Homo sapiens: one gene and its partner. The protein of the gene in region 2 interacts with the protein of the main gene of each other region in a biochemical or structural test. Each region holds a gene or a part of one and is shown on either strand. Other genes may lie near its edges.

Region 1 (3,500 bases), on a different chromosome or scaffold from region 2:
GAAGAACGGGCTGAAACAAGGCCATTGGATTAGGCAATTAGGAAGTCATTTACCTTCAAGAACAGGAGCCTATAGTGCATTAACGAGTTGGGGGAGATGGATTAAGATGTGGGCATTGAAGAAAAGGGAGCATAAACCATTGATCACAGGTGAGAGGAGGGAAAGAATTAAGAGGGGGGAATGCGGCTGTTACTCCTTTTGCCTTCCATGTTGGGAGTTTGTGTGTGCACGCACATGAAGGCAGAAGAAAAAGATGAGGTGACCGATTCATTTGGACAGCCATATTAAGTTCCTACTAAATACTTGGATCCAATTAAGTACAGGGAGAAATGGAAAGCTACAAGAGAAAGAACAGTGGTGGAAGCAGGTTCAAGAGAAAATGGGACAAATATGGATCATGAGAATCGGGAACTTTTTTAGTATTGGAAAAGAGCAACACCTCTTTCTCTCAGACTGGAGAGAAGGAATGAAGGATGGAGGATGATGTAGATTCAGGAATGTTCTGAAATGAAGAAGGAAATAAAGGAGGAAAGTAAGGCTGACCTCAGGCTTCTGGACAAAGTGGAAGTTGGGTCATCTACTGAGAGAGAAGGTGGACTAGGGTGATGGTTGATGGAGTGGAAAGGATTACCACTCTAGGTAATGCCAGGGGCTCAGAGAGACAGGAACACTAGGTTAGCCAACCCCCAACAGGGCTTGCAGAAGCTGCACTTCCTTGTGCTTCTGTGAGAAATGTTTGTTGATAGTGGCTTAGAAGATGGGCAATGTTTGTTACTCTTTTAACCTTTAAGGAGTTATCCTTCATCACCTTATTATTTTTGCTTAATATATTTTCTATGAATTTTTGTTTCAGTATCACCGTAATTTGTACAAGTGTTCCAGAATAACGGTCTCATAGGTTTCTAAGTTTATCTAAATTGTGGATGAGATGTTGGTATGAAATAATAGTACTTCTGGCCAGACACGGTGGCTCACGTCTGTAATCCCAGCACTTTGGGAGGCTGAGGCGGGTGGATCACCTGAGGTCAGGAGTTTGAGACCAGGCTGGCCAACATGGTGAAACCCCATCCCTACTAAAAATTCAAAAATTAGTCGGGCGTGGTGGCAGGAACCTATAATCCCAGCCTTTGGAGGCTGAGGCAGGAGAATGGCTTGAAACCTGGGAGGCAGAGGTGGCAGTGAGCCGAGATCATGCCATTGCACTCCAGCCTGGGTGACAAGAGCGAGACTCGGTCTCAAAACAAAAACAAACAAACAAACAAAAAAAAACAAAAAGAAATAGTACTTTCTAGAGAAATGTATTGATATATGAATTTAGCAGGAAGCGTGAGTGAATGGAGCCATGAATTGTGCTACCCAGTCCCCACCAGTAAGGCTGATAAAATGTTTTATGCTGTTGAAATGAAAAACGTCAGACCAACTGCTGATCCACTAAACCCTACAGAATCGATGACAAAGATGCCAGCTGGTAATTAGGGTTCATCCAGGATCCAGAAGATCCTGAGTGGCCTGGTGATGGGGCCTGTGTGGGAAGATGTTTTCTCAAACCAGTAAACTTGACAGGGTCTGTGGACAAGGCTGAGCTGATGATGTGGGCAACGAAGTACGTGACAGCAGAGCCTCCTGAGTTTCAGTAGAAAGCAACCCAGGGAGAACTGAGGAAGAATCCATTTCTGTCACAAGTAATGTTTACAAAAAAAAATGGTGACCTATGTCCTGATATTGGAATTCTGTTTCTGAGTCTCAGCTGTGTTGCTGGCACCTAATGGTGGCAAGTGGCACCCTGGAACCACTTGGTTCCACAAACTCAGTGACCAGAATGTGCTTCTGGGTGGAAGAGATTCACTTTTTCAACCTTGTTTTCAAGTGGGAGGAATATATTCTGTATGGCCCAAGCCACAGATGAGAACTGAAGGGGATCTGTTGAGTTTACTTGTACCAAGGTGACTCCGATACTTACTTTTCGTTTTCCTTTCCTTGTAGGTATGGCCTCACATGTGCAAGTTTTCTCCCCTCACACCCTTCAATCAAGTGCCTTCTGTAGTGTGAAGAAACTGAAAATAGAGCCGAGTTCCAACTGGGACATGACTGGGTACGGCTCCCACAGCAAAGTGTATAGCCAGAGCAAGAACATCCCCCTGTCGCAGCCAGCCACCACAACCGTCAGCACCTCCTTGCCGGTCCCAAACCCAAGCCTACCTTACGAGCAGACCATCGTCTTCCCAGGAAGCACCGGGCACATCGTGGTCACCTCAGCAAGCAGCACTTCTGTCACCGGGCAAGTCCTCGGCGGACCACACAACCTAATGCGTCGAAGCACTGTGAGCCTCCTTGATACCTACCAAAAATGTGGACTCAAGCGTAAGAGCGAGGAGATCGAGAACACAAGCAGCGTGCAGATCATCGAGGAGCATCCACCCATGATTCAGAATAATGCAAGCGGGGCCACTGTCGCCACTGCCACCACGTCTACTGCCACCTCCAAAAACAGCGGCTCCAACAGCGAGGGCGACTATCAGCTGGTGCAGCATGAGGTGCTGTGCTCCATGACCAACACCTACGAGGTCTTAGAGTTCTTGGGCCGAGGGACGTTTGGGCAAGTGGTCAAGTGCTGGAAACGGGGCACCAATGAGATCGTAGCCATCAAGATCCTGAAGAACCACCCATCCTATGCCCGACAAGGTCAGATTGAAGTGAGCATCCTGGCCCGGTTGAGCACGGAGAGTGCCGATGACTATAACTTCGTCCGGGCCTACGAATGCTTCCAGCACAAGAACCACACGTGCTTGGTCTTCGAGATGTTGGAGCAGAACCTCTATGACTTTCTGAAGCAAAACAAGTTTAGCCCCTTGCCCCTCAAATACATTCGCCCAGTTCTCCAGCAGGTAGCCACAGCCCTGATGAAACTCAAAAGCCTAGGTCTTATCCACGCTGACCTCAAACCAGAAAACATCATGCTGGTGGATCCATCTAGACAACCATACAGAGTCAAGGTCATCGACTTTGGTTCAGCCAGCCACGTCTCCAAGGCTGTGTGCTCCACCTACTTGCAGTCCAGATATTACAGGTAAGACCGTCCACAAGGAGACAGGAGCTGCTGAATGCCCAGTGGCACTCACAGAGAATGTGCCACCTTAGTCACTGTGGGGAGATAAAATTATATGTCTACAGTTCCTGCCTTCAAGTGATCTTAATGTACTTACGAAATTAGGACATGTGCACATTGCGATGTCAATTAGAAGTCACATTAGAACGGAGCCAGGTAAGATCCGTGGCACAGGTGTTCAGCGTTGGAAGGGCTCCCTGGGACCTGGGGTGCAGAGCAGAAGAGTTCCGTCCTCCCGGATGGGTAGGATCCAGACAGGTGGTGGAGAGAGAGGGATGTGCCATCCACAGTCCGCAGTCACACTAGTGGGAATTTACAGGAGACAAGAAGGACACCCGCCTGGCCAGAACAGTTTGTGAGTGGTGGGAGATGTGAGTGAAAGCCTGGTTGGAAC
Region 2 (3,500 bases):
TTGGGAGGCCGAGGTGGGTGGACTGCTTGAGCCCAGGACTTTTAAGACCAGCCTGGGCAACATAGGGAGACCCTGTCTCTACAAAAAATTTTTTAAAAAAACTAGCCAGGTGTGGTGGTATACCCCTGTGGTGTGAGATACTCGGAAGGCTGAGGTGGGAGGATCACCTGAGCCCAGAAAATCAAGGCTGTGGTGAGATGTGATTGCACCACTGCACTATAGCCTGGGCAACAAAGCAAGACCCTGTCTCCAATAAACAAACAAAAAAAACCAGGAAAGGAAAAAAAGCTTTTCACCCAGGCTGAGTGTGTCTACAAATACAGCAGAGAACTAACATGCAGAATCTATCTGAGCAAACAGGAAACAATGGTTGCAGACAAACAAACAAAAAAAACCTCTCTCCATATGTTTGCTAACATTCTGGGAAGAGAAGAGCTGCCTTATGAATTGACGTCACCGAACTACTCAATGCTATATGCATGAACACAGATGGTTGCAACTAGTTTCTGCTTCTTACCAACAAGCAGCACATATCATTCATGTGACATTTCATATTCTAATCTCAATCATGGTGGATACAAATTACTATTTATTTGTAATTCTTTTGGTTTTACTATTTGTTTCACTTTAGAAATTTCCTTCTGCTTCAACCTTTGTTAAGACATTACTTTAAAAAATCTCTGTAAGCTGGGCTAAAAGCTGACTAAAAATCAACCCACTATGCCTAAACAAGTTAAACAAGGAACACAGGGAGAGGCATGCATTATCTTTAGTTTACACAGATAATTGTTCAGGCCGATATTCTTTAAGACACAACAAAATCTCCCAGGGGCTTGTGTTGAGGAAGAGACATTAAAACTCTTAACTGCAGAAAGGCTTTAAGGCTTAAGAATGTAAAAGGTAATAGTAAGTCAGTCAAGCTATAATGCACATACTTACTTATCATCAGCAAGGCTTGCAACATGCAGTCCATCATGGCTAAAAGATACAGATCGTACCCACCGGTCATTTGCTCCTCCAGCAAATATTGGAGTAGGTGGGGGAAACAGGTGCCTGAGGTCAAATATATGTTTTCAGTGGATATCAGTCACTTCAAGAAAACAAAATTACCCAGGTACAAAGTACATCTGTCTTTGAATAGTGTTTAAAGTAGCCTTAATTAATATAACTGAGAAGACTCAGTAGAGATGATACATCCAAATTAAAGTCACCTGAAAAGAACTAATCTTTTATGGTCGGGCGCAGTGGCTCATGCCTGTAATCCCAGCACTTTGGGAGGTTAAGGCAGGTGGATCACGAGATCAAGAGATTGAGACCAGCCTGACCAACATGGTGAAACCCCATCTCTACTAAAAATACAAAAATTAGCCAGGGGTGGTTGCAGGTGCCTGTAAGCCCAGCTACTCAGGAGGCTGAGGCAGGAGAACTGCTTGAACCCAGGAGGTGGAGGTTGCAGTGAGCTGAGATTGCGCCACTGCACTCCAGCCTGGCGACAGAGCAAGACTCTGTCAAAAAAAAAAAAAATCTTTTATGATTTAAGACAGTAAGATTAAGTCCAACTTTGGTTTTAACTGTTTTTCTCCAACAAAAACTCTAAACATAATTAGTACTTCTATAGAGAGCTGGGTACTGTTAAGTAGCAAGACTTGTATCAAGAGAGCCAAATTTACTTTTAGAATTTATATCGAAGGCTTTCCATTAGTCAAGGGCTTAAATAATACCAACATTTTAAATTAGAATAGACTGTAATTTTAGGTTGCATATATTGGTGATTGTAATTATTCACATAACTTGATAGGTGGAGATGAATTATAGACTAAAATAATTCATGCTGTACCCACCCAAATTCCATCAGAATGTCTCCATTATGTGGATCCCAGATATATACTCGAGTATCATAAGATGCAGTAGCCAGTAATGCTCCATCAGGAGAAAAGTCACAAGCTACCACATCATGGTGATGTCCTTCTAGTTTCCGTATCATGGTGTATTTATCCATATTCCAAAGGAAAACCTGCAATAAAAAGGCAAATGTTATAGCTTCATTCAGACATACAGAGGACAAAATGGCACATCTTATACTAAAACTGCTAAATTTAATTAAGATTATATTAAGCATTATAAATTATGAGTAATTTAAAGAATATGCTCAGTGTCATAGTCAGATTAAAATCAGTCTTTAAGTTAATTAAGGCAGACATGCAAATTCTATTTCAAATGTTTCTGTTAAATGTTAATTTAAAAATAAGCCTAAACATAAAATAAAGGCAATGCAATTTAACCACAAAGCTATACTGAAATCCATTTATTCCAAAAACTAATTAACTAAAATATACGGAAATAAATAGGGTTAAGTACTACAAACCCCCTTCTCTTTTTTTTCCAGAAACTACCAGATTTTTAAAAAAATATACAGACAGAAAACGTAAGGTTAACAAATTGTTACTCCATTGGCATCTCCCTTTGAGATAATCACTTGTTTACAATAGGCTTGGGTCACCAACTTGAGCCTAGGAAGAGAAACAGATACTGCAAGCAAATAGAATATTCACAGCCAAATGAAATTTCTTTGGCAAACAACAAGGATGTTAAACCACATTACAAAATGAAAATGCTATTTTATGAAAATAATACAATTACATTTCAATAAATCAAAATTTAACCATCTTATTTTTCCCAAACTAACCACGATCATAAGTCATTTGAATATAAAACGGTTCAATTATTTAAGAATAAGTTCATATACAATTTTAGATTCTAAAGATCAGTAGTTAACTGTGCAGAATAGCTCTAAACAGGATTCTAATGTTTACTTCAGTCTGTTATATTAAATGTGAGCTTGGAGGTTTATCCTAAGACAATCTCTCCTCTTGGAGTAAAGCAATCCTTTTTGGTTTTTTTTTTTTCTGCACAGACACAATACATTATTTCTAAAAGAAAATAAGTACAAATTTTAAATTGAATCAAAGACGTAAGATATCTCTGGAATCTGAAAGAATTCCAAAAAATAGCACAGAGAAACCATTTGAAAGCCAAATACTTTACATTAAATTGGTTTCACTTGTCAGACTCCCAATTCCATAAAACTGGAAAATCAATTTACTCAGGAGTCAGTGTATTTTACTGTGGGGGAAATTACTTTAAAAAAGAAAAAAAGAAAGAAAGAAAAGCAGAAAGTGGACATCGACCAGCACCTGTGTACGTACAGTACACCTTGCAGCCGAATGCAAGGTTACTTCATCCTATGGTAAAGGTCGCCCCCAGCCCGGTAGCCAGAGATGCCACTCTTTCTGCCCAGCTAACACCATTGTGCGCCTGTGTGCGAGTGGTGCCAGCATAACCTCAATCACACCAATATTGCTGCCACCACCTGTGACAGGGAAAGCAAGAAGCATATGGAAAACACACAGCCTAAAATAGCAATGTCAACATCTAATTTTGTTCTTCTTATGATTTGTAAAGAACTAAACTGAGTATCTTGCTTTAAACTTCCAACATTT

The links. The genes of interacting proteins can lie anywhere in the genome.
Region 1: the proteins of WSB1 (region 2) and HIPK2 form a complex in vitro, tested with the Homo sapiens proteins (one study listed by BioGRID).

What each region holds. Positions count from the first base shown.
Region 1 is NC_000007.14:139,715,499-139,718,998, reverse strand, and holds part of HIPK2 (homeodomain-interacting protein kinase 2), read left to right. Parts: exon of another isoform or gene 1-106; coding exon of another isoform or gene 107-149; intron 150-1,983; coding exon 1,984-3,067; intron 3,068-3,500.
Region 2 is NC_000017.11:27,307,614-27,311,113, reverse strand, and holds part of WSB1 (WD repeat and SOCS box-containing protein 1), read right to left. Parts: intron 3,371-3,500; exon of another isoform or gene 2,015-3,370; coding exon 1,842-2,014; intron 1,054-1,841; coding exon 940-1,053; intron 1-939. UniProt on the Homo sapiens protein: Probable substrate-recognition component of a SCF-like ECS (Elongin-Cullin-SOCS-box protein) E3 ubiquitin ligase complex which mediates the ubiquitination and subsequent proteasomal degradation of target proteins.